Regions from separate parts of the Homo sapiens genome. Here regions 1 and 2 are each linked to region 3. The links come from fine-mapping of genetic effects on gene expression. A gene starts in region 3. Each other region holds a variant in brackets. All regions are shown on one strand. Distances are between the middles of the regions. Region 1 holds the start of MYL12BP2 (MYL12B pseudogene 2). Region 2 overlaps IRF2 (interferon regulatory factor 2). Region 3 holds the start of IRF2 (interferon regulatory factor 2).

The links. PIP is the estimated chance that this variant, and not a neighbour inherited with it, causes the effect. A credible set is the group of variants that fine-mapping cannot tell apart.
Region 1: its variant is the best candidate, but not a certain one, in a credible set for the expression of IRF2 in whole blood (GTEx, PIP 0.88).
Region 2: its variant is the best candidate, but not a certain one, in a credible set for the expression of IRF2 in monocytes after LPS (Fairfax 2014, PIP 0.84).

The regions. Positions count from the first base shown.
Region 1 is chr4:184,312,763-184,323,697 of GRCh38, reverse strand. It overlaps MYL12BP2 (MYL12B pseudogene 2), which reads left to right and starts at 9,369. Exons shown (of 3, transcript XM_047416561.1): 1 at 9,369-9,393; 2 at 9,550-9,738. The coding sequence starts at 9,369. RefSeq lists enhancers at 4,030-4,329, 5,717-6,216, 8,899-9,058, 9,189-9,458, 9,377-9,878. The variant G/A (reference allele first, on the strand shown) is at 6,451.
Region 2 is chr4:184,392,975-184,403,909 of GRCh38, reverse strand. It overlaps IRF2 (interferon regulatory factor 2), which reads left to right. Exons shown (of 9, transcript NM_002199.4): 7 at 4,831-4,995. Among named protein-coding and RNA genes, the nearest start is that of LINC02362, 16 kb to the right of the region's middle. RefSeq lists an enhancer at 8,263-8,472 and a silencer at 10,283-10,458. The variant G/TG (reference allele first, on the strand shown) is at 5,255.
Region 3 is chr4:184,468,573-184,479,507 of GRCh38, reverse strand. IRF2 (interferon regulatory factor 2) reads left to right here and starts at 4,958. Exons shown (of 9, transcript NM_002199.4): 1 at 4,958-5,129. It overlaps IRF2-DT (IRF2 divergent transcript), which reads right to left and starts at 4,706. Exons shown (of 1, transcript NR_186573.1): 1 at 2,204-4,706. RefSeq lists enhancers at 3,920-4,249, 4,600-4,789 and silencers at 4,820-4,939, 5,750-5,799, 5,880-6,569, 6,630-6,699.

The sequences.
Region 1 (10,935 bases), 160 kb after region 3:
TTAGCAGCATGTTTCCAATCAATGTTCATCCATGTCGTAGCCTGTGTCAGAACTTCATTCCTTTTTTTGCTTGTTTGTTTTTTGTTTTTTGAGATGGAGTCTTGCTCTGTCACCAAGCTGGAGTGCAGTGATGCTATCTCGGCTCACTGCAACCTCGGCCTCCTGGGTTCAAGCGATTCTCCTGCCTCAGCCTCCTGAGTAGCTGGGACTACAGGTGCGTGCCACCACGCCCAGCTAAATTTTGTATTTTTAGTAGAGGTGGGGTTTCACCATGTTGGCCAGGATAGTCTCAATCTCTTGACCTCAGGATCCTCCCACCTCGGGCTCCCAAAGTGCTGGGATTACAGGTGTGAGCCACTGCGCCCAGCCCTTCATTCCTTTTTATGGCTGAATAATATCCCATTGTAGGGATACATTTGTTTATGCATTTCTTTCTTTCTTTTTTTTTTTTTTTGGTTAGACAGAGTCTCGCTCTATTGCCCAGGCTGGAGTGCAGTGGCATGATCTCAGCTCACTGCAACCTCCACCTCCCGGGTTCAAGCGATTCTCTTGCCTCAGCCTCCCAAGTAGCTGGGATTACAGGCACCTACCACCACACCTGGCTAATTTTTGTGTTTTTAGTAGAGACGGGGTTTCACCATGTTGGCCAGGCTGGTCTTGAACTCCTGACCTTGTGACTCACCTGTCTTGGCCTCCCAAAGTGCTGGGATTACAGGCATGAGCTGCCATGACTGGCCTGCATTTATTTTTTGATCCGACATTTTATTTGAGAAAATTGTCAGTGATTTATTTTAAAAAGAGCATTTTTTTTTTCCTGATGGGTGTTAAAGTGGATATTCCTTTCTGTTGAATAGGATGTGGTATACAGGTATTAGTGTGAGGCTGATGACTAAGAGCATGTGGCATTTCTGTGAGTGGCACAAGAGCCTAATAAAAATCAGTATCTACCCTGAAATTCTAAGTGAATTTACCTTGTGCCCAGGGCTTTAACTTTTCCCTAGATTCTGGAAAAGCATACTGTCCATGGCCTAAAGTTTGTGGGATGAGAAAGTTTTCACCTGGTGAAATGTTTGTAGGTGATTACATTTTGGGGGCATTGAATTTTTTTAAAATAAGAAATCTAAAATGTGATACATACACACCATGGAGCACTATACAGCCATAAAAAAGAAAGAGATTATGTCCTTTGCAGCAACATGGATGAAGCTGGAGACCATTATCCTACGTGAACCAACTAACACAGAAACAAAACCAGACACCACATATTCTCCCTTATAAGTGGGAGATAAACATTGAGTACACAAGGACTCAAAGAAGAGAACAGCAGACACCAGGGCCTTCTGGAGGGTGGAGGGAGAGAGGAGGGTGAGGATCGAAAAACTACCTGTCAGGTACTATTCTTATGACCTGGGCTGTGGAATAATCTGTACACCAAACTCCCATGACACGTAAGTTACCTACATAACAAACCTGCATATGCACCCCTGAACCTAAAATAAAAGTTAAAAGAAAGAAAAAAATCTAAAAATCTTGTTGACATATTAAATATTATGTGTGTGTGTGTGTGTGTGTGTATATATATATATATATATATATATAATTTTTTTTTAGACGCTGTCTCGCTCTGTCACCAGGCTGGAGTGCAATGGCATGATCTCGGCTCACTGCAACCTCCGCCTCTCGGGTTCAAATGATTCTCCTGCCTCAGCCTCCCAAGTAGCTGGGGCTACAGGTGTGCACCACCACGCCCAGCTAATTTTTGTATTTTTAGTAGTGACAGGGTTTCACCATATTGGCCAGGATGGTCTTGGTCTCTTGACCTTGTGATCCACCCACCTCGGCTTCCCAAAGTGCTGGGATTACAGGCATGAGCCACCGCACCTGGCCAAATGTTATACTTTTTAAAAAAAATAAAAACAAACAAACAAAAAACTAAAATCTACACAAATGATTACTTACTCCTTAAAAATCAGGTAGGACAGCCAGGTGCGGTGGCTCATGCCTGCAGTCCCAGCACTTTGGGAGGCCATGGTGGGTGTCTCACCTGAGGTCAGGAGTTTGAGACCAGCCTAGCCAACGTGGCAAAACCCTGTATCTTCTAAAAATACAAAAATTAGCCAAGTGTGGTGGCAGATGCCTGTAATCCCAGCTGACTATGGGAGGCTGAGGCAGGAGAATCGCTTGAACCTTGGAGGTGGAGGTTGTAGTGAGCTGAGATAGTGCCACTGCACTCCAGTCTGGGCGACAGAGTGAGACTCTGTCTCAAAAAAAAAAAAAAACAAAAGATCAGGTAAGGCGACTTGAAGTTTTAAAACATTTATGCAGAGGACATATTACAGAAGAGAACATGTACTTTTCCAGTTGCAGAATGTTTTCATCTGATTTTCTGGAAGCCCCATGACATAGCAGAGTTCTTTTCTTGCTTATCCCCCTGGTTTTGTTCCATCTTTTGCTACAGCCCTTCTCAACCTACTTCATCATTATGCATTAATTAATCCATATGGTAAGTTAATTAATAATTATCACTGATAGATTAATAAGTATATTAAAAAGAATTATTTCATAATAAAATAAACAATTCATGGTATTCATTAATAATTTAACAATTATGCTACAGGAAATTATTCAGTAATTAATACAAATTAAAATGGATTTCTTTTTGTCATATTTATTCATGATTCTCCAAAAGACCTCCCCCTAGATATTTCTGATTCACCACCAATTGGCTTTATTCTCTTGACACCATAAGAAACAAGCTTTTTAATGCTGGAAACATTTATTAGAGTTGACAGCCGTGCTGCAGAGGCGCGGACTGAATGTTCCAGGCGGATGTTTATGCTCAACTCACGTGTAAGTAATCACTGTAAGTCATCTTACGAAACCCCATGCAGCCTCGGTGCTGGTTAATAACTAAGTTTGTGTGCAAATTTATAGGACTATTTATAGGACTAGGTATTAATGGATCAGACAAGAGAGGGAAGTGAGCTGTAGAGAATTTAAGTTGCAGAGAAGAACTTGAACCCAAGTCCTCACCCCATAAACGCTACTGTTTTCTTCTCTGAATAGTCCATTGACACCAGGGAGTATGGCTTTAAGAGGAGCTTTGCAAAGTTTAGTTGAATTAGCTGATAAAAGTGCTTCAGATGTTAGGAAGCCAGTAGCCACGTCAGGCCCCCATTTACGAGAAAGCTTAGACTAGCCCATCCACCTGGGCAGAATTTATCCTTTTTAGTGCATGGGTCAGGTCTGACATTGTTGGAGGTGTGTGTTCTCGCTGCAAATAGCTGGGCTTTGTTGCTAGAGTTGACCATCTTGTTGTAGGCTGAATATTAAGGCCTAGGTCCATATGTGCATGTGTGGTCTTTGACATGGATGGACTTTCCTGCTAGGAATTATATCAGATGACATGTCCTCAGACAGGAATGAGGACCAGAACTCCCAAATGGGACAGGAATGAAAAGGATTCTAGGTGGTAGGAGTTAAGTATGGCCCCAGGATCTTGGAGGAAATGTGGGGAACCTACACAGAAGACGGAAAAGCTGTGCTCCTGCCTCAGCCTCCCGAGTAGCTGGGACTACAGGCACGTGCCACCACGCCCAGCTAGTTTTTGTATTTTTAGTAGAGACAGGGTTTCACCATGTTGCCCAGGCTGGTGTCGAACTCCTGACCTCAGGTGATCTGCCCACCTCGGCCCCCCGAAGTGCTGGGATTACAGGTGTGAGCCACCACACCTGGCCAAAAGCTGTATCTTCTAGGGCAGAAAATTCGGAATTCTCTGTGTTCATTTGCTGTCCCATAACATTGGCAACATTTTGGTTAAATGGGCCAAGGTTGCATTGGCTGTGTAACTGGGGAGGTAGGCTGAGTGAGGAAGCAATGAGGGGAGGATATTAGAAAAAAAAATGAGGGAGAGGCACCTCTCCCTACAACCCTGCTGAGGTCAATAGACCTAAAGGGACACAGCCCTGTGACTGAGTCCACCTGCCCTTCTCAGTACTGGGGCATGAGGGATTTCCCAAAGCAGATACCTTTTTGTGGTTCTTTTAATATTTCAAGGTCAAACAAGAGAGATGCATTTGTGCCTCTATGCAAAGAGAAATTCAATATGTGTGACTTCTTTCATGGTCTCTTTTATGCCCACAGTGTGTCAGAGGTTCTAGTGCTATGGAAATTCCCCAGCCCTCCCACCATCATTTCGTTTATGACTATCTGCCTGTAAAGTTTTGGTTTCTATCTGTTATCATGTTCCACCTTGGGTCTATCGAAACACCAGCGACATGATGTTAATAGGTGCCCAAATTATAAGGTTAAAAAAATAATTTTATGGAAAAATTTCTAGAAAATTGACTCCTTAAAAATTGCAACCAGGGGCTTCCTAAAAGAGATTAAACTGAAATTTACCTTTGGGGCAGACTGTTCCTGCTTGACTGGGTCCTTACCATTAACTAGATGGCAATTGAACTTGCTTGTTGTGCAAGGACCCTGTCTCCACCAGTTTTTTTATGGTGCTGATAGAAGGTGGCACAAAGTGGGAAGGAATGATTCCCGGCCCCACATGGATTGAGGGTGAGTTCTGCTGCAACCTGCCGTGCAGCCTGCACTTAACCTGCCGGTTCTTCTTGCTGTGAGGCTGTATTCTTCTTTGTGCAGGTGTTTCTAGGAGCTGGAAAGCTCACGACAGCATTGTGCAGGAAGGACACAGAGACAGAATCGCTGCACCAAGCTGGAGGAGAGAATGGCACCAGAACGAGCTCTGGCCCAGCGCTCTGTGGAGTGGACCTATGAGGCCCACTGTAGGAGCATGGTCCCACCAATTCAGATGGCTGCAGGGGCTGGGAAGGCGATACACAGGACTAAAAGAGACCATGGGCATCTGGCAAATAGGAAAACATGGGCTCCATTTAGAGGAAGGAGCTGTGTCTTAAGCCATTTTGTGTTACTGTAAAGGAATACCTGAGGCTGGGCAATTTTTATATATATATATATATATATAAAATGGTTTATTTGGCTCACGATTCTGATGGTTGGAAAGTTCATGATCAGGCCTCTGCTTCTAGTGAGGGCCTTGCTCTGCTTCCACTCAGGGTGGAAAGTGGAGGGGAGCCGTGTGAGCAGAGATGGCAGAGATGGCATGGCAAGAGCAAGCAAGCGTGTGGGGAGGCGCCAGGGTCATTTTAACAACCAGCTCTCTTGGGAACTAATGGAGCAAGAATGCATTCATTACCATGAGGAGGGCACCAAGCCATTCATGAGGGATCCCCATGACCCCCATGGGACCCCCACGGGACCCCCATGACCCAAACACCTCCCACCAGGCCCCACCTTCAACACCGGGGATCACATTTCAACCTGAGATGTGGAGGGACACACATTCCAACTATAGCGAGCTGCTACAGAGCTTGAGCTGGTGACTGACATGCAAATCCAGAGGCTAAATGTTGTTTTCAAGAGAAGACAGAAATTTTTACTTTTTTATTGAGGCAGAGTCTCACTCTGTCGCCCAGGCTGGAGTGCAGTGGCATGATCTTGGCTCACTGCAAGCTCTGCCTCCCGGGTTCACGCCATTCTCCTGCCTCAGCCTCCCGAGTAGCTGGGACTACAGGCGCCCGCCACCACGCTCAGCTAATTTTTTGTATTTTTAGTAGAGACGGGGTTTCACTGTGTTAGCCAGGATGGTCTCGATCTCCTGTCCTTGCGATCCACCCGTCTCGGCCTCCCAAAGTGCTGGGATTACAGGAGTGAGTCACTGCGCCTGGCCAAATTGTGATATTTTAAGTGTAAACTATCTCAATGGGAATATTGATAACAATTCATATATATTTTTTAAACTGCATGACCCAAATGAAACAGGTCTGTGTGCCTGATTTGCAGCCTCTGGACTATTATGTGCAAGTGGAATCCTGTGGCTTGGGGTCAGGAAGCAATGCTGCAGGCCTCTGGGTAAGGGATGGGGACTTCCCCGAATGGAGTGGGAATTCCCACTGCCGGTCCTTCTGGAAAGTGGCCTGTCCTAGGACAGGAACTGAGGAACAGGGAGGCAGAGTTTGCCTCCCATGGGTGGAGGAGCTCCTTCTCTCACCGAGTCTCTGGAGGGCTGCCCTGCATGGTCGGGGGCAGGTGTGCTCACAGCACCCTGGTGGGGCAGGCCCTGCTCCAGGGAGGCAAGCTCGGGGGGCCTGACTGAGCGGCAGCAGTAGCAGCCCCAAGTCCCCCTGTTTTGAGCGTCCCTTCTGCTGACACTTCAAACAATGCCTGGTTAAAGGTTATAGCCCAGCTTAAGCTGGGTGCGGAGAGGAATGAGGTGGAGCAGAGGAGAAGGTGGGGAGCGCGTGCTCCTTCTGCAAGGCCTAAGTCAGGGGACTCAGTGGCACCAGAACAGTGGTCATCTTGGGAGTGCCAACAGCTGGGAAGGCAGTCCTGGTCGCTCAGGAGCGGGGAAGAAGAGCAGAC[G/A]CTCAGGTACGTGGGAACCTATTCCAGAACACGTGTGACACAGCCCAGGGGAACCCCCAGAAATAATAGAAAGGTGCTTTGAGGGGTTTAACTTCCCATGTGGGCAGACGGGAAATGCATGCAATTGGTTGTAATTAGAGTATTGATGGAAACTTGCCCCCTTTTTTTGTAGACACACGTGGTTGAAGCCGGGCCCTTCGTTTGAAGAAATGACAATAGATGTTTGCCTGGAGTTTTAGCGTTTACAAAGTGATCCACTAACACCGTCTCATGGAATCTTCACATCAACGGTGGGGAGAAGGTGTTGTAGGCATTACGATCTCTGTTATAGATGTGGAATCTGGGGCTCACTGTTTGGGTAACTTGTCCGAGGTCATGCAGCTAGTAAGACTCAGATACAAATGCAGGTCTCAGAATTCTAAACCAGGGTTTTCCTCTCTGCCTGGCACTCAGGGACAAGGTGAGGGGATGAACTACTCTAGTCCACTGTTATGGGTTGAATTTTATCCCCCTAAAAGATAGGTTGAAGTACCTATGGATGTGGCCTATTTGGAAATTGAGTCTTTACAGATGTAACCAAATTAAGATGAGGTCATTAAGGTGGGCCTTCATCCAAAAGACTATTGTCCTTGTAAGAAAAGGGAAATTTGGCTAGGCATGATGGCTCACGCCTGTAGTCCTAACATTTTGGGAGGCCAAGACAGGAAGTTTGCTTGAGGTCAGGAGTTTGAGACCAGCTTAGGCAACATAGTGAGACTGCATCTTTACAATTAAAAAAAATTTTTTTTTAATTACCAGGGTATGGTGGCTGGCTTATGCCTGTGGTCCCAGCTACTCAGGAGGCTGAAGCAGGAGGATTGCTGGAGCCCAGGGGTTTGAGGCTGCAGTGAGCTATGATTGTGCCATTGCACTTCAGCCTGGGCCACAGAGTGAGAACCCCACTCTAAAAACAAGAAGATGAACAAGAAGAAGGAGAAGAAGAAGAAGGAGAAGGAGAAGGAGAAGGAGGGGAAGGGGAAGGGGAAGGAGAAGGAGAAGGAGGGGAAGGGGAAGGGGAAAGGGAAGGAAATGGAGAAAGGAAGAAGAAAAAGGAAGAAGAAGAGGAAGAGGAAAAGGAGGAAGAGAAACAAGAAGGAGAAGAAGAAGAAGAAGGAGGAGGAGGAGGAGGAGGAGGAAATTTGGACACAGGTGCTCACAGGGAGAAGAAGGCCATGTGGAGACAGACACAGAGGGAAGAAGATGTGAGACAGATGAGGGCAATGCTGCTAACAGCCAAGGACCTCCTGGGGCTACTACACACTGGAGGAGGCGAGAAAGGGTCCTCCCTTCAGGGCTTTGGAGGGAGCACCGTCCAGCTCACACCTTGATTTTAGACTTCCAGCCTCCGGAGTCGAGAGGGAATGCACCGGTGTTGTTTAAGCCACCCTGCTGTGGTATCTGTTATGGCGGCACAGGCAGAAATAGGGACACAAGTGCAGGTTCAGGGCAAGGTGTGCGAGCACACTCAGTCCCTGGCCTCGGAGTCTCTCTGGATGGCTTCTTGCCTAGGGTGACTGACAGAGGGATGGATGATATGAAAAGGCAGCTGTTCTCCTCCCGACCTAACCCCAATTCTTACTCCATGGGTTCATGACAGCCCATTCTGCTGGAGACTGTGTCTTAAAACTTTCTCCCCTAGTTTCTCTCAAGTACCCCTCGTGAGCTGTGATTTCACTGGGCTTTCAACTCTTAGGCCATTTTCTTTGTGCCTTTCTATCAAAGCTTTATATCAACTCAAACCATGTCTATAGTAGTTTTCCATTTTCCTTTTTTTCTTTTTTAATGATTGTAATTTTTTCAAATGGATTATGTATTTTTATATCTTTTTTCTTTTGAATTTACTTCTTTTTTAAGAGCCATTTTTTGTTTGGAGCAAAATTGAGCAGAAAGTCCGGGGAGTTCCTCGCTGCTCCCACACACACAGCCTCCCCGCTGTCGATATCTGGCACCGGAGGGGTCTGACCCTTACAAGTGAGGAGCCTATGTTGATGCACCATTATCACCCAAAGCTCATAGTTTACACGAGGGCCCACTCTTGCTGTGGAACCACGTTCCTTTTCCCCACGTGTTTTTGCATCCCTTTTCTTTTTTCTACCTTCCCAAACCCTGTGATGTTCGGAAGAGCTATGATCCCTATTCTATAGAGAGGACACTCAAGGAAGCAGCTGATAAGTAGAACCAGGACTCAAACCCAGATCTCATAACTCTAAATCCAGCAGTGGTAGTTTTTTCTCTTTAATACAATTATGACACTCCCTTTTGAACTTGTGATATATACCTGCCGCTAACACACACACACACACACACACACACACACACACACACACACACACCTTGAGAGGCTGTTGCCAATTGTTCTTTAGGCATCACACACAGCCCCGGCACACAGCAGGGGCTTAATAGATATTCCTTACATCGAAGTTGAAAGTCTTGTCTCAACATTCTGCTCTCACACACTCGCCTACAAACTCATCAAATAATAGAGCATCGATTCTCATTCTCTCCCTCTCCCTTCCTTTTAAATCTCCTGGGGCTTAGAATCCATAATTTGTGGAATTCCCGCATTCCCACAGGTGTCCTGGGAGGTGGGCAGGGCCAACACTTCAGCAGCTTCTGCAACGCAGCAGACTCCTGGGCCTGATGTGCTAGCTGCCCATTTGCTATGGGCCTTCGCTCCCCAGAAGCACCTCTCTGGGTATGGGGCAAACACCCCTCATTGCTGCAATGCAGCCTCTGCTGGAGTGAAACAGGATGCTTGATTTCTATTGCGTCAGTAGCAACACTGCCCAGAGGTCTAAGAGAGGAAGTCAGAGCAAAGCCCATCAAAGCCCACCCAGAACAGCAGGGAAATTCCAAGTCATCGGTTTCTAGTTCTCCCCATGCGTGTGGTGGCCCTGCTTTGTGGTGAGCCTCCAGGACTGTCCTGCTGTGCCTCTGAAGCACCTGCTCACAGAAGGGTGACCCATTGAGGCATGCAGTGGGTTGATACAAATGTCAACTCCAGCCCCTGTCATCAGCTAAAGGTCAGCAAATGAGTTCTCTGGCATTTGGGGTCTGCAGGAGCAAGTGAGTACTGTGAACACCTGCAGTGTGGAGACCACGTCCATCTAATTGGCGTCTATGGGGCCCAGTGCCAGGCTGGGCCCAAGTGTCGATTCAGGAAGGGTGTCTCAGGATGCAGAAGCCGCCTGATGCGTGCAGAGGTGGATAGGCCTTCAGCCTGCTCTCCTCCTCTGTCCTGCAGACCGGGTGAGTTATGTTAGCCTCTGCTTTCCCTTCCTGTCCTGAGCACAGCAATCGGGACAACCACACATCCTCTGAGAGATGATAAAAATAATGAGACCAAGAAGACTGCACCCAAATCGATGTTTTGTCTTTGCGCAGACCCCATAGTGTGTCTTGTGCTGCAGAGGGAAGCACCTGGCATCTTGGGGCCTCTTCTCTGCCCCCTCCCCACTTTGGGGAGGGGTTTTGTCGGGGGCAGCCTCCATCCTTTGGAATCCTGTCTGTGCTCTGATTCTCCCTGATGGTCTTTATAGCTTTGCATTATTTTGCTTTCAGAGAACAGAGAAATGTGAATAAGAACAGAAACATGGCACCGGTGTCCTCAGCTTCTTCCCCACCTTCACAGAACTGCTGCTGCAAACTAGTAGTTTTGAGAAATGATGAAAAACCTGTGGTTTTCCCCAAATTCCAAGAATCAGAGGCAGATTCTAGGAGGGTGAAGATGGTGTGGGCTCAAAAATGGTCATGCGGCACATCTTCTGAGGAGATATGCTGCCCATTAAAAGGGCAAAACAGGAGTTGGTGTGTGGGCAGTTCCCGCATCACACATAAAGGCTTCACCAGTGAGGCTCAGCCCAGGAACTGCCTGCCCTTGAGGCTGGGGGCTCACAAAGAAAGCTTTCCCCCAGCTTCTGATGTCCATGAAGAGCAGAGAGCATGCTGGTGGTGATTCATAACCCCCTGAAATGTATCCTCAGTTTGCCAGAGAAAAATTTCTAGGACCCACCTAATAAGTTCATTCATTGGTTCCCAGACTCGGCAGGTTTTACCAGATCCCTCACGACTGGTCCCAGCTTCTCTCCCAGCACATTACTTGAAGGTACACAAATAGTCCACTGTGCTTTGTTTCCTCTGTTTCTTCCAATTCTCTCTTCTGCTTGACCAGCTTGTACTTGAAGATCTAGGTTTTGGGAGATTCCCGGGATTGCTGCCAGGCACTGCCTGCCCCCATCTGAGTAAGGGGTGTAAACCCCAAGAGTATCTGAGACAAGTGTCAGTTAATCTAGGATTGTATATTGCCAAGGTTAAGAACATGCCCAGGACACAGCCTTGGGAGGTCCTGACCACATGTGCCCAAGGTAGTGGGCCTACAACTTGGTTTTATACATTTTAGGGAGACATAAGCCATCAATCAATACATGTAACATGTACATTGTTTTG
Region 2 (10,935 bases), 76 kb after region 3:
GGGTGACTCTTTTCAGATGTGCTGACTTTAATAAACTGGAGAAACTTAGTGGATTTCTAGTTCTTCTGTTTGAGAATTTCCCTGGCACACAATAGATAACTGTTGAAAAGAAATGTCACTATTAGTTCTGAGCCTGGAGACTCACTAAGGTGAGATTCAAAAGTTTTTATCCTGAGAGGGGCTAAGAAAGCCCTCAGTAACTCAGTTTGGACTTCATTAACTCTCTCTGTTAGGGAGAGCATATTATAAAGAGTTGAAATTTGGAGTTGGGTAAGGCTAACATTGAATCCCGGTTCTGCTGCTGATTGTCTGTCTGACCTTGAATTAGTCATGTAGTTCTGTCTTGTATGGTTGTTTCAGCATGTCTAGAATGGGGATCACTATTGTGCCTTCCTCATGGGTTGTGAGGTCTTGGGAGGTGGTAGGGAGAGGCAAAGATCAGTGCTCAGAAAGACAGGTTTTGTCATTATTCAGTCAGGACACTCTTTGGTACCCAGAGGAGTGCCACTTCTGACTGTTTACTGTAGCAGGTAAGTTTGTTATTCCTGTCTTTTCACCTGTCAGGAGTCAGTGTTGCTGTCTGTTTTGCCGCTTGGTGGTCCAGGGAAATCAGTTCACATGTCGAGAGAGAGAGAGAGAAACAGATAGAGACTGGTTAGTGAGAGTGTTGATGCTCATCTGAGAGCATTTCGATATTGGGATTTCCCTGCTTCTCTCATGGGCTTTCACTCGAGAGCTGGAAAGTTTCTAAAGTACCCACGATGTCTGGATGGAGAGAAGCCATTGTCCCTTACCAGGGCATAAAGCAACACACTCCTATGGGGGAATTTGGCCTGAGAGATAACGTAATTATATTAACTTGGTATCCAGATCATAGCCCAGAAAACAGACTGACTTTTCTCTCCTGGTCAGCCGCATTCAGGATACACCTAAAATCTGCATGGACGTGCTTATCTACTTTTTTCCCCAAGTCATGTATATTAAGTGAAATACGGTAAAATTCACCCCTTTTAAGGCACACGGTCCTATAAATGTTGACAGACGCACTCAGTGATGTAACTACCACCATAGTCAAGACAGAACATTTTCATCACCCCAACACGTTTCCTCCCTGGCCCCAGCCCTCGCACCCACAGCCGGCTGTCTTTATCACTTCCCAAAGGTTTCAAGAGTCCACTTGTCAGAAGTCTTGACATTTTTCTAGAAAACATTAATTGTCACGTCCCGTATTTGCAGATTGTCACAATCCCCTGCAGGACTCCACTCTGGCTCCAGTCAGTGAGCCTCGGCCCCATCACATGTCCATTTATTCAGGGGAGAGTCCCTGAGCGCCTCTCCGGTGGGAGTTGTGAGCATGTGTCATGACTGGACACAAAAAGTTCATACTTTGGTTGAGGAGAGATGCCATTGACCAACTCAAAGCTCCATACGGGTATATAGCGTTAACCAGCAACTTGAGGTCAGAAGTGTCACAAGGTCGCGGCCCATCGTAGTTTCGGCCGAGTGACGGGGACAGTGAGTGAGAGGCACCCAGGGGAGAGAGGCCAGTCTGTGCTGGCGGGTCAGGAAGGGGCTCCAGAAGTCAGGGGCATGGTGAATGCTGCCTGTTGCTCAACCCCCACTCCTGTGCCACTACCTCATTGAAGCCTTTGATTCCTCAAACTGGAAAAAACACCCCACTTCTCTAGCTTCCATTGTATGGCCCCCTTCTTTTTCTTTTCTTTCTTTTCAGTGCTCACGGCCTTAAACTGACTCTCTAGATGGTTAGTCGCTGGCCTATAGCCATGTATATGAACTTCTTACAAACCGGATCCTTGACTGCATCGATCTTCCGCTGCTCCTTCTAGCCCTGGGAGGCTGGGAGGTGCAAGCAGGTGTTCCATAAATCTCTGTTAGTTGAATAACCGACTAGGACGTCATGGGGAGAAGCAGTGAGAGAAAGAATTCCTGGTTGGAACAAAGGGATCTGACTAGGGGGATACTTGAGCTGCTGCCATTGTTTGTAGTCCCAGCTGGCTTGCCCTCTTTCTGTTAGGAGCAACGTGCAAAGGAGAGATGAGTTTTGAAATATTGGAAGTTAAAATGGCTTTGACTTAAGTCACATTTATCTAAGACCTTCACTGCCTTAGTATGCAAGGTATCGCTGCGCCCTCCCTCCTCAAACTCTCACACCCCATTTGGTTTCTACCTCCACCCACCAGCTGCTTCTTAGGACTTAGGATAGGGCAGGCCATTATCTTGTTTTCCTGCCATTTTATTTTACTTGGCTGGAAGAGGCAGAGGAAACTAGAGAGAGGTTGGTGTAGGTCAGCGTCAGTCTGTGTCTAGTGACCTGCATAATTGATGTCCTCACCCTCACGTAGGATAATCCAAAGGATGAAATAAATGGGCTTGGGAGTCTGCCTGCCATATATAGCCTGCCTGCCTTTTCTTTAATTTTATCCCCACCAGGAAAACCTAAACAGGATCCGGTTTCCCTTCCATTCTGTATGCTGTGGCTTTTGGACTCTTGTATCACAGCCCCAAATCCCCTTTCTGAGCCTCTTTTGTGCCTTTCCTTTCTTTATTAAAGAACCTATGAATTGCCACTGCCCTCTAAAACCTTCCCTGCGTAGAAATCAGATAATGTGCTTGTCACTCCACAGACAGCAATTAAAACAGGAACCTGTTTATAAACAAAAATACTTCAGAAAATAAAATACTTGGAGTGATTAAAACGAGCCTCTCCATGACGCCTGGCGTCTCAAGGAGACTGGAATGCGTTCTAACCTGAATACTTTGCCGATTGGTGAGAAAATGACTGCAACATAGAGCACCACATATACTCCAAGCTGTGCGAGTCTGGACAAGTCACTCTCCCTCTCTGTGCCTGAGTTTCTTCATCTATAACAGGATAACGATGCTTTCTCTGTCATCCTTATGGGTTAAAATGTTAAAATAACAGATACAGGTATGAGTAAAACGTTGATGATGGTGGCAAAGTGCTTTGAGGACCTTGGGAATTATTTCTTCACCTTTATTTATTGAAGCTAATTTTCAGGGACATTTCATCCAACTAACAGTGGTATGAGGTCAGTTTCATTCAAAATGAGGGCAGGACCTTAGGGACCTTCAAATTAAAATGGCCATGAAACATCATGACTTACCTATGAGAATGGCCAAAATAAATAAACAGTGATGACACGAAATGCTGCCGAGGCTGTGGAGAAATTTGATCACTCAGACACTGCTGGTGGGAATGTAAAATGGCACGGTCACTCCGGGAAGCAGTTTGGCAATTTTCTTGTAAAATTAAACATGAAATTACCATATGACTCAGCAATTGCATTCTTGGGCATTTATCCCAGAGAAATGGAAACTTATATTCATACAAAACCTGAACACAAACATCCATAGCAGCATTATTTGTAATAGTCAAAGGCTTGTAGCAACTCAGACATCCTTCAGAGGGGAGAATAAACACACTGGTACACCTATACCGTGGAATACTACTCGGCAATTGAAAAGGAACCGATGACTGATACACACAACAACTTGGGTGACTCTGCGGTGAATTATGCTGAGTAAAAAAAAAGCCAGCCCCAAAAGTCTACTGTATGAGTCCATTAATATAACATCCTTGAAATGAACAAATTAATGAAATGGGGAACAGATTAATAGTTGCCCAGGGGTCATGGACAAAGAGATGGATGGGGAGGTACTGAAGGAAGGTGGCTATGGTTACAAAGAGTAACGTGAGAGAGATTGGTCGTGATGGAACTGTTTGGTGTTTTGACAGTGGTGGTAGGTACATGAACCTTTATGTGTGATAAAATTGCACTTAGTCCTGGTGCAGGTACACACTCACACAAAAGAGTGCAAGTAAAACTGAGGAAATCGGAACAAGATGGGTGGATTGTTATTTATGTCAATACTCTGGTTGCGATATTGTATTCTAGCTTTGTAGCCTATAACCATTGGAAGAAGTTGAGTAAAAGGCACACAGGATCTCTCTGTATTATTTCTTACAACTGTATGTGAGTTTACAATGATCTCAAAATAAACAATATAAGAAAAATATTTGAGGCAGTTTTCAGAGCCAGGGTGGTCAGAATCCATCTTATCAGTGTTCCGGGGAGCTGATGCTACTAATGTTTGCCAGAATTGGAGATCTGACTCTATTCCATTGTGCTGATATTTCAGCCAGTTGGACATGTTGCCTGTAGAGCAGGAAGAGAGCTGGGAGCGTAAGCAGAGCGCCACCCAGCTAGATGGGGACCTTGGGCATTTATCCCAGAGAAATGGAAACTTATGTTCATACAAAACCTGAACACAAACATTCACACAGCTAGATGTGACACAATTGGGTAGATTTTCATGGCCCTTCCTCTTTAGTAAGGTTTGATAATGTCTCCCTGGATTGTAGAACCCAGAAAATAAGCACAGCGCCTTCTTTTGGAGCAAGAGCAGGGAGCAGAAATCGGTCAGGTTCAAAGTACTGTCATGTCTGGCCCTGGGGCTGGGGCTGGATGCCGCCTCTGGTCCTGTGGCCTCGGCTGTGACGGGGTTGACTGTGGAATTCTGCTGAGCTGGAAAGGACATGGCCACCGTGCGTGCCATTGGCAGGCATGCTGGAGATAGACCTGGGGAGCCAAGTGCTGGCCGGCTGCTCCCTGGGAGACATCACACCAGAGCTACAGAGCTCAGGCGTGTTCTTCAGCCCCATGGCAGGGGACAGATGGTGATGGGAGCCTGGCGACCTGGCTCTTTTGGGGAAGACTCTTTCTTGAGAAAGTGTGCTAGAATTGTGAGGTCAGCAGACTTTGCATGATGGCTGTCTTTTCTTTGAAGTTGTAGGACAGTCCCATCTGGACAGCAACATTGAGAATCAAGAGATTGTCACCAATCCGCCAGACATTTGCCAAGTTGTAGAGGTGACCACTGAGAGCGACGAGCAGCCGGTCAGCATGAGCGAGCTCTACCCTCTGCAGATCTCCCCCGTGTCTTCCTATGCAGGTAAGCGTCAGCGGGAGGCTCCGGGAGGCGTGGGAACCGGCCGCGCAGTCCTTTGGTCTAGGGTCACCCATCTCACCACCCCACGGAGCATCCCTCCTCTGTCCTAGGAGTTATTCTCCCTGGAGTTTTTCATACTTTAATTATCTTGATCAACATCTTCTTGGACACTTTTGTTCTCAGGTAGAGGACAGGATCACAGCATTTCTTTACTCAGTTGGCCATGACATTTTTTATTTATTTATTTATTTTTTTTTTTTTT[G/TG]AGACAGAGTCTCGCTCTGTCTCCCAGGCTGGAGTGCAGTGGGATGATCTCGGCTCACTGTAACCTCCGCCTCCCAGGTTCAAGAGATTCTTCTGCCTCAGCCTCCTGAGTAGCTGGGATTACAGGCGCACACCACCATGCCAGCTAATTTTTGTATTTTTAGTAGAGACGGGGATTCACCATGTTGGCCAGGCTGGTCTCGAGCTCCTGACGTCAGGTGATCCGCCCACCTTGGCCTCCCAAAGTGCTGGAATTACAGGTGTGACCCACAGTGCCTGGCCTCCCATAACATTTTTATATATGGTTACAGATAAGATTTCTTTAGGGCAGTAGTTCATCAGAGTCTAATTTATTAGCCCAAGTTATTAGAAATTTGGCAGAGTGTTTTAATGGATTCTCAGTTTGAGCAGGCTGGATAGGACCTTAGAGATGATCTCTTCCTGTTCCTTCATTTCTGAAAGGGAAGGGGCTTGCGCAGGGTCGTACAGTCAGCAAGTGTTTGGGCCAGGACTTGACCTCAGCCTTCAGACCCCAAGCTCATTGCTAGATCCATTCCATCCACCAAGCGTACTTGTCCTTTCCACATATTTTCTCTTTCTTTTTATATCTAGTACAGGTTCTAATTAGGCCAGATGACTGAGCCATTTCCAATTCTCCAGGGACTTGGCTACATAATGACAGGAGTTGGCCCAGGCAGAGTCACAGGGGGAGGAACAGATCCAGTTGGTTCTTCCATTCTTCCAGAGTAAAAGGATGGCTCCTCTCGTTCGCCAACATTACTTCATCTTCTCCTCTCTTCCTGATGATCTCCATTGAATTTTGTGGAAATCAATTGTAATTAGGAAATATAAATTCTGAGTCAGTGTTACTGCTTGCAGATATTAAAAATAAAAAGCAGAGTCCCCATCCTGGGAAACTGCAGTTCAGCTCTAGCAAATAGTTCAGGGATTCTTCCCTGTGCTCTTTACACGCTGCCAAATGGGATGTCCTCCAGTAGGTGCCACCCCCAACACTGGCTCCGACCAGCGTTGGAATTAGAGTTGACTCAAAGGACTGTTGTTTGTGAATTATCAGCCACTAAGTCTAATCTCATTTTCCCTGAATGCCAACTTTCTTTTTTTTTTCACTTTTAAAAATTGTGGTAAAATACATTAACATAAAATTTACCATTTTAGCCATTTTTAGGTACACAGTTTAGTAGCATTCAGTGCATTAATGTTGTCGCAGCCATCACCAGCATCCACCTCCAGAACGTTTTTCATCTTGCGAAACTGAAACTCTGTCTGCATTAAACACTAAGTCCTCTTTTCCCTCCTCCACCCCAGCCCCTGGCAACCTCCTGCCTATTTTCTATCTCAGTGAATTTGGCTATTCTAGGTACCTCCTATGAGTGGAATCATAGTGCTTGTTGTTTTGTGACTGGCTTATTTCACTTAGCATAGGTCCTAGTGTGCATTTATGCTAGGAGCGTAAGTGGAATGTGAGAATAGACCTTGGCCACAGGAAGATTATAATCTGTCAAACAGGATAAGCTTGTCTTCGGTGCTTTATTCAGCAAATGCGTTTTGGACTCTTACACGTGCCAGTCCCTGTTTGGTCCTTGCCAGAGTGCAGTCACAAGAACTACTATGTTTTGCAAATTTATTGTGCCCTGGGAACCATGCTCAGTGCTTGGGTACAGTTGACTGTTGTTGTTGTTGTTTGTTGTTGTTGTTAATAGAAATAGGGTTCTGCCTTGCTGCCCAGGTTGGTCTAGAACTCCTGGGCTCAAGTGATCTGCTCGCCTCAGCCTCCCAAAGTGCTGGGATTACGGGCATGAGCTGCCATGCCTGGTATGATACAGTTGACTTGTTTAATTATAATTAGAGTAACCCTGTCAGCCTGGGTATCGTCATCATCCCGTTTTTAAAAGTGAGGAATCTGGCTGGGTGTGGTGGCTCACGTCTGTAATCCCTGCACTGGAAGGCTGAAGTGGGAGGATCACTTGAGCCCGGAAATTGGAGACCAGCCTGGGCAACATAGTGAGACCACACTTCTACAAAAAATAAAAAAAGTTAACCGGGTGTGGTGGCATGTGCCCGTAGTCCCAGCCACTTGGAAGGCTGAGGCAGGAGCATCCCCTTGAGCCCAGGAGTTCAAGGCTTCATTGAGCCCTGGTTGCACCATTGCACTCCAGCCTGGGTGACAGAGCGAGATCCTGTCTTAAAAAAAAAAAAAAAGAAAAAAAAATATATATATATGGATCTGCGGCTGGCGTGGGTAGAGCAGCGTGTCTGAGGGAGGAACGATTGGGAGCACAGCTAGAACCCATGAGCCGTTGATGCCAAAGGCCGGTCCTTAACGCCCGCCCTGTGTCGCTGCCCTGGACAGCGCACGGGCTCTGCCGTTCAGAACACAGCCACATCCCGTGATCTCATTTGATTTTCACAAGGACCCACCAAAGGAGGCAGAGCAGAATGTTTATGCCTAAATTTTACAGTAGAGCTAACCGAAGCGTGAAACACTCAGCCACTTTGCTTATATTTACATAGTTATGGCTAAAAACCCATGACTTTCTTCTATAGCCTGCTGCTGCAGGCATCGTTACACTCCATGTGGTTTTCTTTCTCTCTTCTTTTTTTAGGGGGTTGGAGCTTTAGAATAGACTTCTATGTTTATCTGTTGAGTAAGACTTTTCTGAGGTCTTCTTGGGGATTCTGGAAAGACCTCTTCTTGCTGTTCTGCCAGCAGTGGCATTTGCTCAAGCAAAAGATTCCGGAGAACAGCAGATCCATGCAGAGAGAAATGAACATTTCATTACTCTCTTCAGGACATTTGCATAGGTTTGAAAGGAAGGATTTCAGTGCCAGGATGGCAGTCAACAGGAGGTTTTGCTGGAGCCTGGCTTTTCAGCCTGGCCTTTGGTTCTTTCCGTTGTTTTCATTGTCTGGATTCTCCAGAACCTCGTGGAGGGAGGCTTACTGGTTGGAGGCAAAATGTTCCATCGCTGCTGATGTTCTAGAGCTCACAGTGGTGTAAAACATTTCCCTGCTACTGACTGTAGCTAATTTTAGTTCCTCCGTCAGAAATTGTATAACATGCTGTCAGGAAAGGCAGCTTTCTGCGTGTATTCACCTTTCTTGCTTTATGTTCTCCAGTAGAGTCGGCCATTTGCCTGTTTTTCATGATGGAGTTCCTTTGTTTGGGCTGTTCATCTGAATTTCAATCTCCTCTGACCACCTTTTTTTTTTTTTTTTTTTTTTTGAGACGGAGTCTCGCTCTGTCGCCCAGGCTGGAGTGCAGTGGTGCGATCTCGGCTCACTGCAAGCTCCACCTCCCGGGTTCACGCCATTCTCCTGCCTCAGCCTCCCGAGTAGCTGGGACTACAGGCACCCACAACCAAGCCCGGCTAATTTTTTTTGTATTTTTAGTAGAGACGGGGTTTCACCGTGTTAGCCAGGATGGTCTCGATCTCCTGACCTCGTGATCCACCCGCTTCGGCCTCCCAAAGTGCTGGGATTCCAGGCGTGAGCCACCGCGCCCGGCATGCTCTGACCACCTTTATTCATCTGTTTGGGAAACTGGTATTTGGAGGCTGCTGTTTGCTAGTTTTTCCCCCTACTGATCGTTGAATCATAATCCCAGTAGTATATTACAAAACCACATTCAGTTTTGCAAGTCTGTCTTCTCCTCTGTGGTCTAAATATTATGATGAGAAAGAGAAGAGATAGTACTTGCGTTGGATGTTTTAAGACAACATAAAATTCTAGTGTGATTTGTGAAACTTTCATACTAGGGAGGGACATTTCAAAGTGCCACTTTGGGAAGCTCTGGCGGAGAGACATGTCATGTTTAAAGGTGCATTACAAAGTGACCCCTTGCCTGATCTGTGGCATCAGAATTTTATTAGGTGGTTGATGGTTTAGTAGAAGAAAACCACAGTAGAATAATGGGGTGGGGGAGGATGGGTAAGAGGGGCTGGAGAGTAGACTCGAGAAGAAAACATCATCTGAAGGACTCACTGGCTATAATGAGAGAGTGGAGATCGCCTGCTGACCAGCAGCCATCAGTAAAGGCTTTGAATCCTTCGGGAAACCACACCAGGCTTGCATTTTGTTGGGCAGAGCAAAGACACAATCGCTTTGAGATTAAGAGGATTCCGATTTGAAAATAATTTACTCCTGGTGAAAGTAATTGAGAATATGATCAATAGAAAGAAATTCAAATCAAACTTGCTGAACAAGAGCCTTCCAGAAAGTGTAGCAGAATGTCAGAGTGCAAAAAGCCTTTCAGGTGAAAATGCATCCTCTCCCTTCCCGCAGTGTTCCTGCTTAGACAATATGTATATCCTCAGCGAGGCGTTAAAAACTGGACTGGATAGAGAGTGAACCTACAACCAGTGTCACCCTAGAACTGGAAGAGCTTTTGAGATCATCTAATCCAAATCCTCCCCTTCCCTCCCACCCTAGATGCTTTCAGGAAAACTGAGACCAGAAAGGTTAAGTGAATTACTCATGTGCCTGTTGGTACTGTACGAACACCTTCAGCTTCTTCATTTGTTTGGAGTTGCTGGAGAAGCAACTCCAGACTTCTTTATTCCATTGTATTCGAAGTAAGTAATAAACAAAAAGCAAAAACAAATTCAAACTAATCAAAAGGGAAAATGAAATGACAACGTATGTTGATAGTTCGATAGTAACACTGATCTGGAGGCCCAGCTGCAGTCAGCTCCCTTGTGTAAGAAGTCAGCGTGGAAGTGGCAATGGTGGTCAAACCAAGGAAACAGAGGACACGGGGCGCAGTGCATCCAACAAAGCACTTGGAGCCACCGATTCTGGGGTCACAGAGAGAACTGCTCCCCTCAGGGGGAGGTTCAGGGTTCTCTGCTCCTAAGCTAAGGTACTGAAGGCCCCTTTTTGAAACTGTCAGTGTCCTAATAGGGCGCATCTTCCTGACGACTTCAGATGCTGTGGAACTTAATCTAGACACGACGCTCTTTAACTCGCATTTGTGTCAGCTGAAAACATAAGTTCGGAGCATGTGTATCTTTTCTTATCTGCAGCTATTTCCCCGAAGCTGAAAACTGGGTACTTAAAGGAAGTTAGCATCCCGGTCACATTCATGGGCGGTGCAAGGTCTTACCCGGGAGCCTTACCCCAGGATCTGACTTCCAGCCCCTCCTGCACCTGCGACTGGGGCTGTGCTGGAATCCCAGCCCCCAAAGCATGCTTGGTTGCGTATCTTTGTTTGTATTTGGAGGGGAAAGGAAAAGAAGACAGTGATATTTATGGAGAGTCATTAGGAGTGAAGAGCATCTGAACCCGTATGAAAGGAAGAGAAAGCTTGGCTTTGGAGCACAAAGAAAGCTAAGCATAAAATGGAAAGCGGATCTTGAAATGTTGTCAGAGACCAGAACACCAGGGAAGCAGGGCTGCTGTGTGCAGTGCACAGGCCCTGGAATCAGAAGTACAGTTTTGTTTTCTCTCCTCTGTGCTGTCTCAGTTGGCAACTTTGGCAAGTTTCTCAACATCTCTGTTCCTCATTTTTCTTCTTGGGAGTGGCTGTTCCGATTCCTGCCTCCTCAGGATACTGAGCCAGCACGAGGGTTCTCTGAGGAGGGGAATTTTCTTTTTCTGTTGGTTTTCATGTGTTTCTGCGTGGAAACAATTCTTGTGCTCGGCAACGTCAGCTCATCTTCATAG
Region 3 (10,935 bases):
TTTTGTATTGGCAACTGTTCTGGCAAGGGTGGAACCCTCGTTTTCCATGACTTTCTAACCTCCTGAATTGCAGCACCTTGGAGGGGAGCTCCAGTGGCCAAGACAGAAGTGGTCCCAGTGATTCTGGGGAGAAAACTGAGCATCTGCTTGCAGACCTGGGGCTCCTGATTAAATCATAGCTATAAATACTTAGGTTTTCATTTATATGCCTTCATGTTACACATTCCTAAGTTGCATGTACAGTTCTGAAGGCTGTGATTACAGGTGGAGATGATGTCGGTGCCATTACTGGGATGCCACAGTGGAAATCAACATGTCAACCTACAAGACTGTAAGAAAACGTCTTAGAAGGCTGGCACTTTCATTCATTTGGTTCACTGCTGTATCCCTAGTGCTGGGAAATGTTCCTGAGCACTCAACAGATTTTATTTGAATGATCATTTTATGAAACTTTGTTTCAATTTTAGGAAACTAAGTTAAAAACCCATTTGAAAGGGGTCAACTTTGAATGTGTCTTTACATTTCTTCCTTAGTTAAGATCCACTCAAGGAGAGATCCGGCACTATTGTGCTCAAGTAATATTGTCTGCACCCGACTCCCCTGAAAAGAAATGAGTCCTGAGGCAGCCAGGCAGATCTTTTAGGATATTCCATCCCACAGGTGAAATACAAACATGCTTCATCCAGGAGATGACTCTAGTTTCACTATAAAAGACCCTTCAACTTTTTTCACGTTAGACTGAAGTGTTTGGTCAGATTTCCTCAGTATGACAAAGGTTACTCTTTTTTTTTTTTTTTTTTTTTGAGATGGAGTCTCGCTCTGGCTCTGTCGCCCAGGCTGGAGTGCAGTGGTGTGATCTCGGCTCACTGCAAGCTCCACCTCCCGGGTTCATGTCGTTCTCCTGCCTCAGCTTCCCGAGTAGCTGGGACTACAGGCGCCCACCACCACGCCCGGCTAATTTTTGTATTTTTAGTAGAGACGGGTTTTCACCGTGTTAGCCAGGATGTTCTCGATCTCCTGACCTCATGATCCACCCGCTTCGGCCTCCCAAAGTGCTGGGATTACAGGCGTGAGCCACTGAGCCTACTTTCTTACCCAGGCTTCCAAAAAGGCTGGAGTTTCCACAGAGATTTATTACTATATGCATCTCATCAAAGGGCTAAGATACTTCTTGACTGTGTATATCAGTACCATGTGGCTGTTTTGGTTCATTTGTACATTTTTGGTTTGCAGTGACATGTCATCAAGGGCCTAAGAACAGAAATTCATTCTGTCTATGTTTTATGAGTTTAGGGGCCTGGAAAATTGCAAGCAACACCCATGCTTCAGGGAGGCCCCAGGACTCAGGAAAGGGGGCAGTCTGTGAGTCCTCCCAGTTTCCCAGCTAATCAATGAAGTGAACAGTGCAAGGCTGTGGAAAAGATGTTCTCTCTGACTTGGGACATGTATAATTTGTTGCACCTGAGACATGTGTAGGAGTTAATGTGGTCAGAGCTCAGAAGTTACAGATTTTGGAGTCATCAGCAAATAGTGATATCTGAAGCCCTGGGCGTGGAGGAGAACACCCAAAGATAAAGCATGTAGAATGAGAAAATAAGAGGGTTGAGGATAGAATGCCTGGAAACACCATAATTTAGGGGGCTGGCAGCAGACGAGGAACCGGCCAAGAACTAGAATAGGACAGCAGGCTGTCACATGGGCATCGTGGAGAGCAGCCTGCACAGTCAGCATTCTTAAATCCTACACACAGACAGAGGAGATGCGGATTGGAAACGGTCCCTTAGAAAGATCACTAGAAGGAAATACATAAAAATATCCACAGGTCTATTCCTGACTAGTGAGATGTCAGGTGGCTTATGTTCTTCTCTCACCATTCTTGCATCTTCCAAATTCTGTACAAGAAACATTAATTACATTTATATTAAAAAGCTATTAAAATATAAAACAAGGCTCTGATCAAGTCTAAAATATTTTATGAGAGCCTGATGAAAAGAGCAAGTAATTATTAATTCACAAGTATTTCAGTGCCTGTGTGCTGGGCACCATGCTAAAGATAAAACAATGAACAAGAGGACAGCTCTGTTGTTTGACAAAAAGGAGCGGAGGCTGGTTTGGCAAGGGAGGGATGTAGGGCTTGTGGGACACAATGGCAGGAGATGAGGCTGGAAAGGTCGTTTGGTGCCAGATTACAATGGACTTTATGTGTCTTGTCAAATAATATGGTCTTTATTCTGAAGGCTACAGAGAGGCTTTTGAGGGGGGCAGTGTTAGGTTTGGAATTGTGCTTTACCTGAAGTTAATTTTCGACTGGATTTTGGCAGTAGTGTGGCTGCTGGCCTGGGGGAGTCCAAGCAGGAGACCAGGAGCACAGGCAGCAGGCAAGTGCAGTAACTGAATGAAGGCAGTGCCCTGAGCACGGGCCAGGCCCAGAGATATTTAGGGGTAGCGTCAATAGGATATGACTGATTGGATGTATGTTGCACGAAGTAGGGCATTAAGAAAAAAAAGGAACAACAAACTTCTTCCTGCTTATCAAAGACCATAATGAGGGCAATGGCCTTTCCTGAAACACGTTCCTTGGGAAGTCAAGCATGAGCATCACAATAGTTTGGAAGCTATCTGCACCCAGCAAGTGAGTTTCCAGTTAGCCTCACGCATGGCAATAGGTGCTTAGGATGCAGGATGCAGGTTCGTGGCCCCGGCCCTGTCTGGCTCCCCTGAAATCACACCACAGAGGCAGCTGCCTTTCGTAAACACAAGGCAGGCAGTGTTAGCTGGTCCAACTAGACCTCATTCTTTCTTTCACCTGGGGCCTGTGCACGGAGGCTGCTGACATGAGTGGACTCCCACGTGTGTGGTGAACGAGAAGTTCAAAGTGACACTTTGCATTCTTCCCTTCTTCTCCACTCTCCTCTTCCCGCTCCAGGAAAAATAAAGGAAGATGATTGTTTTGGTACAGGAAAAAAAAAATGAATACTAGGTTTTTAACTTGTGTCCCGGGTTGGGTAAAGAATGACAACTATTCTATAGTTTGTATAGACTTTCCCTTAGTGGTCATTGCTATATGACATAAGAAAGTCAGTGCCTGGGCCAGGCACTGTCACAGGCCTGTAGTCCCAGCTACTTGGGAGGTTGAAGCAGGAGGATCGCTTAAGGCCAGGAGTTCAAGGTTACAGTAAGCTATGATAGCACAACCTGAGTGACAGAGCAAGACCCTCTCTTTTTTTTTTTTTTTTTTTTTTGAGACAGAGTTTCGCTCTTGTTGCCCAGGCTGGAGTGCAATGGCACAATCTCGGCTCACCACAACCTGCGCCTCCTGGGTTCAAGCAATTCTCCTGCCTCAGCCTCCCAAGTAGCTGGGATTAGAGGCATGCGCCACCAAACCTGGCTAATTTTGTATTTTTAGTAGAGATGGAGTTTCTCCATGTTGGTCAGGCTGGTCACAAACTCCCGACCTCAGGTGATCCTCCTGCCTTGGCCTCCCAAAATGCTGGGATTACAGGCATGAGCCACTGCACCCGGCCTACCCTGTCTCTTAAAAAAAAAAAAAAGTGAGTATTATAATAGAGGGGATAAGGAATAATGTGTATGTGAGGTCTATTTCTGAGACCAGAGCCACAAAACAGAATCCTGCACCTTAGCCATTTTCTTACCACACGCGTTTTCTTGGATACTTCCATTTTTCCAGTCTATATAATTCAATACTTCTGTGACAGAGAGGTGTTGGAGTTTTTTGTTTTGCTTTTGTTTTTTCGCAACTCTTTACATACAAACAGCTATGGTCTCCCAGGAAGGAACTTCCTCTGTTGAGTACAGAAGTCTGGGAAAAGACTGGTGAAATTGCATGCGAGGAAGAAACAGGTCTAACTAAATGTGAATCTATACTTTTAAAGCAAGGGACCACAAAGGGTAGGTCCCAAGGAAGTTGCATTGCTTGCTGCACTTGTCACACGGGCTGTACTTTCTTCTCTCATTTATTTCCATTTACAGCGTTGAAAACTGAGGCCTTAGGCTTTGGTTGAAAACCGAGGCCAAGGGTGACCAGCCAGTGAGTTAAGGAGGCCCCAGCCGAACTTTGCTGGAAGTGCTCCAGCATAAAGCCTCTCTCCAGAACCAGCCGCCACTGAGACGTCTTGAAGTCAAAGTAACTCACACCCTTGTCCACCTCGCCCTGCGGTGAAGAAACTTCGGTCGCACAGGCTCCAGAACTCATCTTGGCGTGGGCTGTGACTTACTGGGGGATGGGCCTCCTTTTCGTTCTAGCTCCTAAATGGAGCGGAGCGCCAGGTGGTGTCAGAGGGGGCGGCGGCCCCTCCAATGGTGGCACCCTCAGCCACGGATAAGGTTCCAATTAGGTAAGGACGCAAGTAATGCTGTCGTTTCGGCTGACTGCTCCTTTCATTCCTTGGAGGTGGTCGGTGTCACAAAACGAATTTTCATTTACTCTCAACAGTCACACCAGCCCTGCTAACTGGATGGTCGCAGCCCCGTGCCTTCGCCGGACGCCCTCCTGGAACCTTCAGGCCACCCTGAGGATGGAGACTCGGGTGCCCGCTCTCCTCCCCTACCGCCGCGGGCCTGCGCCCCCCGCCCCGGACCCCGACTCGGACGTTCTAGCCGCACGTGCGGGCGCCCCTGGGTGCGAGCCGCGGACTCACGAGCCGCTGCTTGTTGCTCCCGCCGCCGCGACCTGGGGAAGCGAAAATGAAATTGACTTTTCCGAGAAATGATGAAAGCGGCGCTGCCCGCCAATGAGCTGCTGCGGCGAACTTCCGCACCTCCCGGCCGGGCCGCTCGCGCCCTCCCTCCGCCTCCACCTCCCGGTTGCACAAGCTTGAAACAAACACTGGGGAGGAAGGGCGGAGGGAGGAGGGCGGAGAGGGGAGGCGAGGGAGGGAGCGCGGCCGGAGGAGGGCGGGGGGTGGGGGGATTTCCAGCCGCGGCTCTTCGCAGTTTCCTCTCCTTGTTTTGCTTTCGATCTGGACTGTTCTCAGGCAAGCCGGGGAGTAACTTTTAGTTTTGCTCCTGCGATTATTCAACTGACGGGCTTTCATTTCCATTTCACATACCCTAGCAACACTTATACCTTGCGGAATTGTATTGGTAGCGTGAAAAAAGCACACTGAGAGGTAACATTTTTCAAATAATAGTTGTGACTGTGTGTGTTTCTCTCGAGGGCATGTTTCTGGGGACTGTGGGGGGCCGTGTGTGTATGCGTGTCCTGATGCCTTGACACGATGTTTTGCAGACGGAAAATGCCGGGGTTCATAAATATTAATACTGATTTTTGGAGGAACAGTCGGCGCAATTATGGATCATCTGATTTTAGGGGAAGCAGGTTCTGCTGCTGTTGCTGCTGCTACTGGGGCTGCTGAGGCTGCGAGGAGGAGGAGGAGGAGGAGGTAGAGAGGGAGGAGGAGGAGGAGGTTGGTGGAGGTTTAATTTCACTTTTGGATTTGCAGATGCGGAGAGGTGGCTCCATGGACACAGACCTGCTGTGTGTGCTTCTGCGCCCCAGGTGTTGTGTGTGGGGGTGCAGGTCAGCTGGAGTCGGGCCTCATTTAAAACAAAATTGTGTGTATGTGCGTGTTTGTGTGTGCGCGCGTGTGTGTGTGTGCAGCCACCGCCGCCACCGGATCCGAAGGAGGGGAGCGGGTCCTTCTCGGTGCCCGCGGCGGCGCCTCTCCAGGCTGCCTCCAGCGTAAATAAGCAGGCACCGCTCCCCGGCCGGGAGGAGCGCCTCCAGCCACGGCCAGAGGAAACTTGCTGGGGCGCCCCGCGGCGGTCCAGGGGCTCGCCTGCCTGCCGGGCTCGGGGTCGGGTCGCGGGCGTCGGGTGCCAGCGGCCGGGGCGGGAGGGCGGGCTCGGAGCCGGGCCGGGCGCCGGGCCTGGCCGACGCGCCCTGCTTCCTGGGGGCTGGGCCGCCGCCGCCGCCGCTCAGAAGGGACGCCGCGTCCTCCTTCCCGCCGGCCAGCGCCCGGTCGGGCCCTGGGGCTTTGTCATTGCACTTGTCCCAGCGCGCCAGGGGCTCGGGCGGCGCGTCCCAGGAAGGCACCGTGCCGAGGGGTCAGCCGCCCGGGCCGCGGCCTAGCGCCGTGCGCCCCCGGGTCCCCGCAGGCGCCCCCGGCCGGCCTCGCGCGCTGGGCCTGACCCGCCTCGGCTACGGAGCGGGCGAGGTGGGGGCGGGGAGCCTCCGGGGACCGAGCGGCGCAGTGGGGGCCGGCGTCCCCTCGGGGTCCCGGGGCGCGGGCCGCGGCGGGGTGGGGACGCGAGTGCCCGCCCCGTGCCCTCCGACCCGGCTCCGGGCGCCGGGTGACATTCGCCCGCTGGCCGAACATGGTTGGTGCAAAGCCGCGGCGGCCGCCACTTCCTTTCCGCCTCGCCGGTAGGGCTCGCCCACCGAGTGAAGCCGGCCGCGGCCAATCGCGGCGCCCGCCTGCTCCCAGTGGCACGGCCTGGGGGCCGGCGTCCGCCGGGGCTGGGGAAGCCGTTCCAAGTTCCAAGGGTCGCGGGTGTAACTCATGCCCCTCCCAGCACGCGCCGGCGTCTCCCCTTGGCCCCCGGTCTGGGTGCGTTTGCCACCCTCTCCTCCTTGTTCCCTAAGAAGCGGGGGAGGGGAAGGAGGCGGGCAGCCTGGGCAGGGCGCCAGAGCCGTGGTCGGGCACCAGGTGAAACGCCCGGGTCAGTCTGTGTAGGCCGGACCCTTGGCGCTCGGCTGCGGATGTGATCCCGGGGACTGGCGGCCGAGGTAGCTCAGAAGAGCGAGGTGGCTTTCGCTCGTTTCTGACCCGCTACTGTCTGAAACTTGGGGACATATTGCCCGCCCCCTCCCTCTTCAACCTCCTCCCTCCGGTTGCTCCTTGTCCTTGGTTATGGAAGGAAAAAACTCAGTTGTTCTAAATGAGGAAAAGTGGTGCTGGCATTCGTCTTCAGCCACCGGCCTCCTTATGGCTGTGACTCGGTCTGCTTTTGATGAATGGCCAGGAGGTATGGAGGATAGTTAGATTTCCTGTTGTGGATTTTCAGGCATCACCGAGACTGCTGTCAAGCCTGCAGTCATTTACTAGTTTTCATATCGACTGCAGGTTCTCTTTGAGCAGTTCAGTTTTTGGTGCTTAAGGGCAGGTGCACAACGGGGTCTGGGGTTAGACCAGGCGGTGGATAGTCTTGATGCTAGGCAGATGCAGTTATCCCTACCAGGCCCAGAGGGTGACTCTGTTTAACTTCACCACGCACGCAGATTCAGGATTCTCTGATTTCCCCAACTTTCCTTTATTCTTCTTTTAGTGGGAGAAGGGGCAAAAGTAGAAACCTAAAAAATCCTGGGAAAAGGAGCCTTTTCTGAGGAAACTTCAGCAGATGAAATATTTAAGACTTGAACTGGGATCTCTAGGGGGAACGTTGGAACATCTATTGATTGATGTGTCAAAGTCCGGAATTTCACTGTAATTAGTGAACGATTATAACTTGTAACTTTGTCTGTTATGTAAGAAATTACATTTTGGTCTCTTAGATCCAAGAGTTCTTGTCTGTTACGATTTGTAACTGCTTGTTAAAATTAAACATTTACATATTTCATTCTCAGTGAGTTGTCATTTTTTTGTTAGAGAAAGTTCCAGTTATTTCAGATTTACTTACCTGTAAAAATGTCAGCATAATCAAAAGTAAGGATCTGTAGTCAAACTGGAAGCAAATTATGGCAAACACATGCGTGCCATGAAGTTCTGACAGCCTTATGAACAATGGTCCCACTTTTATCCCACTTTCTGAAACACTTTATTAGGCAAATAGTGCACCAGAGCAAAAGATGTTTAAACTTACTGGAAAAATAGACACTTTGGATGCTCCACATTTGATGTGCATCAATTTTCTCATGTTACCAACGATGTTATATTTTTATTCTTAACATCATCTCGTACAAAACTGTTGTTTTTAGAGCATTTTCACATAATATCCTTTTGATAGTGAAAAACCACTGTACTCTATCTAAATGGAGTATCTGGGTTATAGTTCCCTTATCTGCCTTATACCAAAAAGGGCTTAACGCAGACAAGAGAATTTATGTACACACTCAATAAATATCCTTAGAACATCTATTATAAGCCAGACACAGTGCTAGCCTCTGTATACTCAACTGACAGCGAGAAAGACAGCATCTTTACACTAGGTTGTGTTCTGGTGAGTGAGCTGACCATTAACAACAAAAAATATAGTTATTACCTTTTGGGGTTAGCTGTAAGGAGGATAATAATAATTTTTAACTATATCTCGTAAGTGTTGCTTTCATGAACAATTGAGATACTGTATATGAAAGAACATTGCATAAATTATGGCAGTCTACAAATGTGTAAGGCATTAACTTTCAAAATTATATCAGATTATTCTTAGTGTAAAAAGGCCAGATAATCATGACTGGATTAGACACTATCTTTCTCATAGAATTTCCAGCAAGGAGGGATTTTACTTCTGAGCATATATAAATAATGATAAAAGATTAAACATGGAATAACTTTTATATAAAGTATCAAAAAAATTTCACAGTGGAATCCGATATTGTCAGTGAATTTTTTCCTGTCAGAAGGAAAGTTAGGTGGTATCCATGGAGACCAAATGATATGGAAATAACAGTGATTGGACCAATGTATTTTCCCTCTTTATGTCAGATAAGAAAATCTTCCCAAGCCTCTCTGTGCTTTAGTCTGAATCTTCTTCACTCTCGTGTCAACTTCTTCATTATCTGTCATTGCAGGTGTGCACTGGGCTGATTGTAGTATTTTGCTTTTACCACCTTTTTTTTCTTTTCTTTTTTTTTTTTTTTGAGGCAGAGTCTTGCTCTGTTGCCCAGACTGGTGTACAGTGGCACACTTTCAGCTCACCGCAACCTCTGCTTCCAGGTTCAAGCAATTCCTGTGCTTCAGCTTCCCGAGTAGTTGGGACTACAGGTGTGCGCAGGCGTGCGCTACCATGCCTGGCTAATTTTTGTATTTTTAGTAGAGACGGGGTTTCAGCATGCTGGCCAGGCTTGTCTCGAACTCCTGACCTCAGGTGATCTGCCCACCTCAGCCTTCTGAAGTTCTGGGATTACAGGCATGAGCCACTGCGCCGGCCTGCTTTACCATCTTGGCTCATGTGCATTTATTGAATGCTTACTGTGTGCCCAACACTGTATATGTGACAACATACATGAAAGTAAATATTAACTGATAGCATATATTTATAACATATATTACAATACGTAATATATGCAAATAAACGAAACTGCGGTGAAATGTCAGTTATTATTAGTAAAAATTAGTTCTTCTTTTCATCTGTATGAGACATGATGTTCCTTCCTGCACAGGGGTAGGAGGTCAGGACCTTCGGTCTCTGCCTGCCCCGTCGGCCCCCTGTGTTTGGCCTGAGTGTAATCAGTGGTCGGTGCACGATGCCAGCTTCATGCACAGTGTGCTGAATTGAGGAGTGGCTCTGGTGGCGGGAGTGACTGATGGAAAAGTGGGTGAGGAAGTTCCATCAAACTTTAATTTATCAACAAAGAACAAAGAATGATGAATAACATATAGGGTCCAGATTTGAACATGAAGACAGTATTTTTTATAGAGTACCAAGGAAAACACACAAGCAGGAAACACAGCTCACAGGTCCCCTTTGTCCCTGGGACTCCGTCTGAGGCTCGTTGGATTCAGAGCAAGCAGCAGGCCTGAAGTCTTGGCATTGACCTTCAAAGATCCCCTAAAAATAATTTTCCCCCTCAGAAGCTCCATCTTATGACAAACTGTCTCTGAAACAAATTGTGTTTATTTAAGTAGACTTCATGTATCCTTTTTCTTTTATTAGAGTCAAAGTCTCACTCTGTCCACCAGGCTGGAGTGCGGTGGCTCGATCATAGCTCACTACAGGCTCAAACTCCTGGGCACAAGTGATCCTCCTGCCTCAGTCTCCTGAGTAGCTGGGACAACAGGCATGTGCCACCCCAAAGCCCGACATACATTTTTGTGTAGAGACGGGGTCTCGCTATGTTGCCCAGACTGGTCTCAAACCCTTGGCCTCAAATGATCCTCCCTCCTCAGCATCCCAAAGTGCTGGGATTATAGGCGTGAGCCACTGCACCCGGCCCTAGTGCCCATTTTTATTCCTCAGAAACACATATGACTTCCAGTCAGAACTCCTGATTGCCTTGAGAAAACTGGTATCATCAAATCTCACTGAACTCATTATAGCCAAAGGTAGAGACCCGTGGTGTGTTGGACAGGCTGGCCGGCTCCGTGTGAGAGAAACTCACCATCCCGTTAGGCTTTCTGAGGCACTGAAACTAGCCGGGACCCTCCATCAATAACTTGGTCTGCTTGGGGATCCAGGGACCCCATGCAATTATTTTAAATGAATAATTGATTTTGTTAAATGTAGTAACACATGCAATGGTTTTCTTAAATGCACACATTGTGTTATTATTTCATTTGTTTATTAAATATTTCTTGACAGCCAGCTGTGTACAAGGCTCTGCGGTGGAAGGTGCATGAACTCAGATGCCTAGAGTGGCCTTTTAGTTCTCCAATCACTTCCTCCTTTGGAAGTTTTCACTGTAAAATGTGGCTGGATAATTCTGTCATCCTCAGGAGACAGAACCTGTGTGTGTTGTGAAAATCACCTGGGGAGGGGACTTTTAGAAATTACACGGGACCTTTTAGATTTGAGACTATCTGTAGCCCCCTTTCCCTTCCTTCCCCTTCCTGCCTTGATAGCGAGCCTCTTATTCACCATTGGATCCCTGCTCCCCAGCCTCCCTCAGGTGTGTGGCCAGAGTAGAAATGGAAAGCCACTGAATCGAGGATCTCTTCCCAGGGCCAAATAGTTGATCTTTTCCTTGGCTCAGATGAAACCTCTTTCCACATTTTAAAAAGCACTTCGGACAGGGGCCTGTGGTCACTCTGTTGGCTC